2 separate regions of the Homo sapiens genome follow, and region 1 is linked to region 2. Evidence: fine-mapped expression QTL. A gene starts in region 2. The other region holds a variant in brackets. All regions are shown on one strand. Distances are between the middles of the regions.

Region 1 (4,393 bases), 77 kb before region 2:
AGTTTCGCTCTTGTTGCCCAGACTGGAGTGCAATGGCGCAATCTCGGCTCACCGCAACCTCCACCTTCCGAGTTAAAGCAATTCTTCTGCCTCAGCCTCCTGAGTAGCTGGGATTACAGGCATGCGCCACCACACCCAGCTAATTTTGTATTTTTAGTAGAGACAGGGTTTCTCCATGTTGGTCAGGCTGGTCTCAAACTCCCAACCTCAGGTGATCCGCCCAACTTGGCCTCCCAAAATGCTGGGATTACAGGCGTGAGCCACCACGCCTGGCCGACAAAAGGCTGCAGCCTTTTGAAGGAGACTCAGCTCATCTTCTACCGATCCCCAGTGGACAAGCAGAACTGTTTTCAGTTGCGATAGCCAAATTCTGAAGCTGCTAGGTTCTCCATTATTCATGAGTAGCTCCGCTCCCTCCAGCCTTGGGGCTGCTTTCTGTTGGCAAAGGCCTGTGTACTTCTGCAAACCTTAAAATATGAGAGCATCTGATGTTCCAGGGATCTAAAATACTGCAAATTCAGGTAACAAAACTGCTTTCCAAAGGCTCTACTACAGGGATCTTCAGTAGCTTTCCAGTCCTTCAAAATCTGTCTCCTCAGAGCTATACAAAGCCTTGGCCTAAGCTCAGCTTCCTAACTCAGTCTTTCTTCGGATAGGAAGAGGGATTTACGGATTTTGGTAAAGCGCTTTTTGTCCGTAGAAATCAAAATTAAGAGATGGGGACTGAATCACCAGAAGATATTGTCCATCCCTATTGTTAATTGTGTTATTAAGATTGAATAGCAAAGATTGACTAGCATTAAATAGAAGATAAAATAACCTATTTCTGAGTGGGTTCTTCATTTCTGAGTGACGTTAAGAAGATACATCTACCTGGAAAAACACATTTGAAGGAAAGGGAGGGCTCAGGCCAGGCACTATCCCCTATACTACCTCATTCAGTCCTTGCAAAACAAACAAACTAACAAACTTCTGTGAGTCTCCATTTTACATATAAGGAAAACAGCCTCAAAGGATTTAAACACACTTTGCAATATTGAAGAGGAAGAGGCAGCCAGGATTTGAACCAGGACTATTTGATCTTGAAGCCCATTCCCTACACAATTTCCCTTCATGTTCCTGGGTGTAATGGACAAACCACCTCTAGCAGAAGGGCTGAGAGAGAAGCCGGTCTCTTTCCCAGTCCCCTGTAGGGCTGCTTCGGCTTTAGGCGAAATTCGTGTTTGACAACTGTGGACTTCCACCCTCAACCTTGGCTCCATGCCTGTGGATAAGAAGGTTTGTAGGGAAGAAGACTTGGAGCAGAGATGTGGGCTTCCTCTTCCTCCCCCTCAGTCACAACTGCCGAACCCAGAATGGAAGCCAATCTCTGAATGAATCAAATTTGAATTTGGGCACACCTACACTTTCACGGTCCAAGTGCCTGCTGAGGATCATGTGGCTAACCTGTCCAGCCCATCCTCCTGCTCTTACCCTAATTATTTTCTTAGACCCTGAGCAACAGATGTAAAATCACCATCCACCCACCTAACTCTGTATCCTGAAGGCCATCTTCCAATGCACACAATATTTGAGGAAGTGGAAAAGGGTCCCTTATTCCAGGAGAGAAGTTACTTAATAGCCCAGAAATGAAACCACTTCCTCTCCATGAACACTCCAGATATAATAAAGTCCTCTTCCCCCTCTACTTGTCTCACCAATATGTGTCCCTGGTATGTCTGGGACAGGATACTGCCTTCAATACCCATATGGAAAACCCTGACATAACTCCTCATCAAGAGCTGGCAGATAGGAAGGAAGAATTTAATGATGCTTATCCATGTCTAAACTAGAACATAACCTGTGTGTTATGAGAGGATCCTAATGTTTGGAGAGTTGGGGGAAATCATTAAAAATGTAGCCCCACCAGCCGCAGTGGTTCATACCTGTAATCCTAGCACTTTGGGAGGCCGAGGCAGGTGGATTGCCTGAGCTTGGGAGTTCAAGACCAGCCTGGGAAGCATGGTGAAACCCCGTCTCTACTAAAAATACAAAAAATTAGCCGGGCATGGCAGTGTGTGCCTGTAATCCCTGTAATCGCCTGTAATACTTGGGAGGCTGAGACAAGAGAATCACTTGAACCTGGGAGGCAGAGGTTGCAGTGAGCCGTAATAGCACCATTGCACTCCAGCCTGGGTGACAGAGCGAGACTCCGTCTCAAAAAAGGAAAAAAAAAATGTAGCCCCATTTAAGACTGGATCAGAAATCAGAAAAACAGAAAAGACCTCCTCTTTATCTGGCCCTGCATGGCTAAATATGAAGAAAGGGTTGCAGAGAATAAGAAAGAGTCTGT[A/G]GCAGTCAAGGAAAGGAGACCAGAGCTGAACCCAGGCTGGTCCGCAGAGGCTGGAAGTTGTTCAGAACCAAAGGATATTCTTTAGTTTCTTCTTTTCCTTCCTCTTCCCTTTCCCTTCCTTTCCTCTTTCTTATTTTGAGACAGGATCTTAGCCTGTTGCCCAGGCTGGAGTGGAGTGCAGTGGCGCAATCATATCTCACTGCAGCTTCTAACTCCTGGGCTTGAGTGATCTTCCTACCTTAGCCTCCTGAGTAGCTGGGACCAAAGGCATGCACCTCCACACCTAGCTAATCAATTTTATTTATTTTATTTTATTTTATTTTACTTTATTTTATTGAGATGAGGGTCTCACCATGTTGCCCAGACTGGTCTTGAACTCCTGGCCTCAAGTGATCCTCCCCTTCAGCCTCCCAAAGTGCTGGGATTACAAGCATGAGACACTGCACCCAACCCCAAAGGATTTTTTTTTCAATAGGTTTTTGGGGAACAGGTGGTGTTTGGTTACATGAGTAAGTTCTTCAGTGGTGATTTCTGAGATATTGATGCACCCATCACCTGAGCAGTGTACACTGTACCCAGTGTGTAGTCTTTTATCCCTTACCTCCCCACCCTTTCTGAGTCCTCAGAGTTTATTGTATCATTCTTATGCCTTTGCATCCTCATAGCTTAGCTCCCACTTATAGGTGAGAACATACGATGTTTGATTTTCCATTCGTGAGTTACTTGACTTAGAATAATGTTCTCCAGTTCCATCCAGATTGCTGCAAATGGCATTATTTCATTCCTTTTTATGGCTGAGTAGTATTCCATGGTATATATATATACCATATTTATTTTCTTCTTTGCATCCTCATAGCTTAGCTCCCACTTAGCTCCCATTCCCAAACATATGAGGTTTGGTTTTCCATTCCTGAGTTACTTGACTTAGAATAATGTTCTCCAGTTCCATCCAGGTTGCTGCAAATGGCATTATTTCATTCCTTTTTATGGCTGAGTAGTATTCCATGATGTGTATATATATATATATATATACCATATTTATTTTCTTTAACCACTCATTGATTGATGGGCAATTGGGCTGATTCCATATTTTTGCAATTGCGAATTGTGCTGCTATAAACATGCATGGGGAGGCATCTTTTTTCTTCTTTTTTCAAGACAGAGTCTTGCTCTGTCACCCAGGCTGGAGTGCAGTGGTGTGATCTCAGATCACAACCTCCATCTCCCAGGTTCAAGCAATTCTCCTGCCTCAGCCTCTCAAGCAGCTGGGATTACAGACATGTGCCACTACACCCAGCTAATTTTTGTATTTTTGGTAGAGACAGGGTTTCACCATGTTGGCAAGGCTGGTCTTGAACTCCTGACCTCGTGATCCACCTGCCTTGGCCTCCCAAAATGCTGAGATTACAGACGTGAGCCACCATGCCCAGCCTATCTTTTTCATATAATGACTTCTTTTCCTCTGGGCAAATACCCAGTAGTGGGATTGCTGGATCAAATGGTAGATCTATTTTTAGTTCTTTAAGGAATCTCCACACTGTTTTCCATCATGGTTGTACTAGTTGACATTCCCACCAACCTTGTAAAAGTGTTCCCTTTTCACCACATCCATGCCAACATCTAAAATTTAAAATTAAAAAAAATTTTTTTTTATTATGACTGTTCTTGCAGGAGTGAGGTGGTATGGCATAGTGGTTTTGATTTGCATTTCCTGATAATTAGTGATGTTGAGCATTTTTTCGTATGTTTCTTGGCCATTTGTATATCTTCTTTTGAGAATTGTCTATTCATGTCCTTAGCCCACTAATTTATGGGTTTGTTTGTTTTATTCTTGCTGATTTATTTGAGTTCCTTGTAGATTCTGGATATTATAATAGTCCTTTGTTGGATATACAGATTGCAAAGATTTTCTCCCACTCTGTGGGTTGTCTGTTTACTCTGCTGATTATTTCTTTTGCTGTGCAAAAGCTTTTTAGTTTAATTAAATCCCATCTATTTATCTTTGTTTTTGTTGCATTTGCTTTTGGGTTCTTGGTCATGAAGTCTTTGCCTAACCCAATG
Region 2 (4,393 bases):
ATTGTCCCTCTCTCTCAGCCTTAACAAAGATTGCCCCTTTCTTTTCTACAAGCTCTCATCCTTTCCAAAACCACTGTTCCCTGCATAACCTACCAGTGTGCACGACGCTGAGCCGGATCTCCCCTATCACCCCATCAACATCAGGTGGGTTCTTCACCTGGCAGGTGTATGTCCCATTGTCGTCGAACTGCAGTTTCCAGAGAAGGATGGAGGCATCGTACCGCTCAGGATTCCCATCCCAAGACACCCGGTCCTTAAACCGCCCACTCATGGGTTGGAAGGGATCTATGTGGTAGTAGAATACCTAGAGAGGGGAAATGGCAAAAGGTCTTCTTACTCAGCACCCAGGCAAGGAGGCCAAGATGGTGGGAGCGGAAGTGAAACACCAGCAAACCCAACTGTCCTGTCTGCAGCTCTGTCACTTGCTTTCCCCTTCAACGGCCTCTCAGTCTCTGTCCCAAGAATTGTTTCCGAGCTTAACCTTGTGCTTGCTGCTAAGAAAAATACTGGAAGGGAAAGGAGAAATGGACTGGCTTATTATTTCCCTAAACAAGAGTACCCTGGAAAATGATGATAATCTACTTACAAACTGCTCAGGTCCCCCGTCTAGAGGACGAAAATTCCAGGTCACTGTTAGAGCATCACCCACAGGGGCAAAGCTGGAGAAAGTGCATTTTAACCGAGCATCTGTCCCATTAACAGCCTCCAGCACCCGGGAGGTATAAATTTCCACAGCTGCTATAGGCCAAAGAGCTGCAATGAAAAAGAAGAAAAAGAAGGGTTAACAGGGGATGTAGTATTGTGAGAACTTCTGCTGACACTTCCAAAATAAATATCTGAGTAGGACTTAAAGTAAAGTGAAACTGAGATGCCCCATCTCCCAAACTTACTTCACCCAGAATCTACATACTCCTACCTGTATGCAGCCTGGACCCTCCCATTCCATGTGACAACTAAACTACCACACAGCAAGCCTTCGCAGTGCTTTTACTTTCTCCACAGCATTAAAGCCTCGCCTCGTGGTACTGACTTCAAAACTGTTATAACAAACTACAAACATCCGCAAATAGAATTGAAAGCATAAACAAAAAATTAAAATGAATCATAACATTGATTAGACATTACATTATGTATTAAGGTTAAGCATTATGTGTTGTATGTAAAGTGGTCTCCTAGCAGGTAAGTTTTCCAGATGGGTCCTTAGGTGGATTTCATACTGTTACTAGTCTATTGCAGAAACTGAATTAATCAACTCCAGACAGCTTATGTTTGCCTGCACCCCTAGAACCTTTGTACCACGTGGCATTTTTTTAAACTTGATATTTACATTTAGAATGTGTGTGTTGGGGCACTTTCAAAATCACAGTAGGTCTCTCTCTAACAATCTCCACTTTCCTGGTGTTGCTGAGAGTCACAGACAAGACCCACACACAGAAATCCAAATGCCAAGTCCTGCCAGCAGTGGGAGGTTGAGAACAGCCACACACAAAAAAATGGCATGTAACCTGAGATTAGAAAGCCCTCTCTGTGCCTGAATCACTGGCAGCTGAACACACCTAAACCTGTTTGTCCGAGAGCAGTTCTCCAAAAACAGTCCACCAACTTTGGTTTCAGTAAAACCCAAAGTAAAACAAACTGTATCTGTGGCTCAGGCTCCCAAACAAAAGTCTTGCAACTTCTAAGACAATTAGCTAACTTTATAGAGTGAGCAGTGAAGGAGGAAACTCTGAGAGAAGCCCGCCGGCTCTTACCTGTGAGCTGTATGCCAAGGAGAAGAAGCACCGCACGAGTAGAGCTCTTGCCATACATGAGGGAAACCCAGCCTTGGCCCCAGAGACCGGACGGGGCAGACCGAGGGCTCCAACACCCTGCCAAGGCCACTCCGGGAGGAGCAAGCACCGCGTTTTCCCAGAGAGAGGAGTTTGAGTTGAGTTCCTCACCTGTGCCTGTGACTCAGCCCGCTCTGCCTGTGCACTTTTCTGAAATGAAAGGTGGGGCCTCAGCTCCCAATGCCCTCCTTCCTTTCCTCTCTCCCGCCCTCTACACGAACGAGCATGAGCACGTCTGCACAAAGGTCCCAAACTCCCGCAGTCCTCTCTTTACTTTCAGTTAATCTGACTGGGCTCTGGCCTCTAGATGGCCTCGGAAACAGCCAGAGGAGGTGGTGCCAGTCTGAAATGTCCCAGACTGTTATGGGTTTGGCCCCCACACGCCCTTTTAAAACAGGCTTTAGGCTTGCCTGGGAAGTGAATGTTGAAACTGTCCTGCAGTGATTCCACTTCTCAAAGCACCACCCCAGGGCCACATTCACTTGGGACTGGATTCGATACAATTTCAAAACGGGAGTCGGAATTCCTTAGGACCCTCTGTGGACAAAAAGCTGATACCCCTGTTACCACAAGGATTCCTGCACTTCTTCTAGTTTGTAGCTTTCCAGGAGACCTGGCAGAAACAACAAATCAAATCTCCATGCTTAACAATCCTTTACCTTTGAAGACTTTAAAAACAAATGAGGACACCATCCCTGCTCATTCACCCTGCCATCCGAGTGCAATCTACAAAGTGCTCTCCTGCTGATTGTTTCATCTCCATTAACGCCCTTGTGAAGCATTCCCATTCTACCAGTGAGGACGCTAAGAACCCGAGGAAGGTAAATGATTTGCCCAAGGTTGCACAGCTACCATGTGGCAAAACCAGAACTTTTCTTAAAAATCTAGCGTTCTTTCCACCAAATAACAGCTAATATGAACAATCAGACATGGGGCTCTCAAGGAAAAGGTTTTCATGATAACTTTGTTGTGCCTCGGATTTCATCTGTCATTTTTTGAATAGCTAAATGACTGAGAAGTCTAAAGAGCTGAGGAATCTAAACGAGAAAAGATGCCTCCTTGTCTGGAAAGAGGGTGGGTCATCTTTACAGATTAATGAAGCGGCACAGAAACATCGGTAGGAGGGGGATGAAGATTACACATGCAGTTAAGAAGTAGGCTGGGCTGGGAATCTAACCCTGAAAAAAGACAGATTGCGTTTATCCCTGGATTAGCAGTCTAGAAACTCTTCAGTCACTCATAAAATCTTCTAGCTGAATCCAGAGCAGAAAGGGTGGCAGGAACAAGAGAAGGCGGCAGGCTGAGTAGAAAAAAATAAAACATCATAAAGAGGGAAGAAAAGAGAAAATTCTACCAAAAGAGAGGAGAATGCAGAAGTGCAGAAAACAGAAAGCAACAGGAGAAAGATGACATGGGCATGGAGCAAAAACAGGTAGACAACCACAAAAATCCATTGTGTTGGAACTCAGAAAGCAGAGGTGGCCCCAAATGCAGACCAGCTGTGTGCTAGTGAAAATCTGTTGCATGGTGAGAGTTTCTGAAAACTGTGTGGCGTCTTTGTCAGATTCTAGTTCAGAAAGGGACCTAAAATCAGTCTGCTGGGGGAACCTTTCAGATGTTGGTGAGGAAGGATAAGATACAGCCTTTCTGGTATGTAGGTCAGAAGAGTTCAGCTCCAGGACCCTGAAAGAAAAAGAGTTAAGGAAACTTGATCTTGGTTGGCTTCCAACTTTGCAGGGAAATACAGCTACAGAGGAAGGAGAGGTAGAGCCAGGATTTTGAAGTCTACAGCAAATTGCAAAAACTGGTGAGAGGTAGAGTTACCAAAGAGCTCAGGGATGCAGTGAAAAGCAACAGGAGAAGAATCAGGGCAGGAAGAACTGAACAAACTGCCTGTTGTCAGGAGCAGAAATCCCTCCCCCAGGTAGCCAAACACCCATGAGCTGGTTGCCAGCCTTGCTCTGAGGGGCAGGAGTTATCCAGATCCCACTTCTCAGCTGAGTTCAAGTTCCTGGCTTAGTGCCTGGCAACGCCCAGTTCCTTCCAGTTAGCAGGAGTGGCTCCACAGTCAACCACTTCACCTCACTGGGCAAGGAAGAGGCCAAGGGTAGAAGGTTAAGAAGAGAAAATGCTAAATAAAAAGGATGTTTGCCCCTCACAGTTTTCTGGACACCAGTCAGCAGGACTTAGACCAAAACTGCAGGCATCTACATAAGGCCTAAGTTATGTTTGTGCCCAGGCAAATGGAAGGAAAGGAAGAGGAGTTCTGGAAATTGAAAAGAAGAAAAGTAAAGTTTTCAGAGACACCATTTTCTTTCTAAACTTTTCCAGAGAAAGATCCTGATTGTCATTTAAAATTGTGACATACCAATAGTTTTTGAAAGAATCTCATCTGTCCCATCCATCTACACATTTCCCAAAAAATGATTTCTAGTGAGTATCTAGACCTTAGCCAGCAGGAGACTCACTGGGGGCTCAGGAGACAGAAGGGACAGTGGGCCTGTATCAATATTTGTAAAAGTTGTCTTTCTCAACCTCCTAGGCAAAAATCTTTTTTTCACCTA

The links. PIP is the estimated chance that this variant, and not a neighbour inherited with it, causes the effect. A credible set is the group of variants that fine-mapping cannot tell apart.
Region 1: its variant is the best candidate, but not a certain one, in a credible set for the expression of MPZL2 in blood mononuclear cells (TOPMed, PIP 0.80).

Annotation. Positions count from the first base shown.
Region 1 is chr11:118,185,311-118,189,703 of GRCh38, forward strand. No RefSeq gene overlaps it. Among named protein-coding and RNA genes, the nearest start is that of SCN2B, 11 kb to the left of the region's middle. The variant A/G (reference allele first, on the strand shown) is at 2,333.
Region 2 is chr11:118,262,345-118,266,737 of GRCh38, forward strand. It overlaps MPZL2 (myelin protein zero like 2), which reads right to left and starts at 1,953. Exons shown (of 6, transcript NM_005797.4): 1 at 1,752-1,953; 2 at 587-753; 3 at 94-304. The coding sequence starts at 1,809. RefSeq lists an enhancer at 1,705-1,754.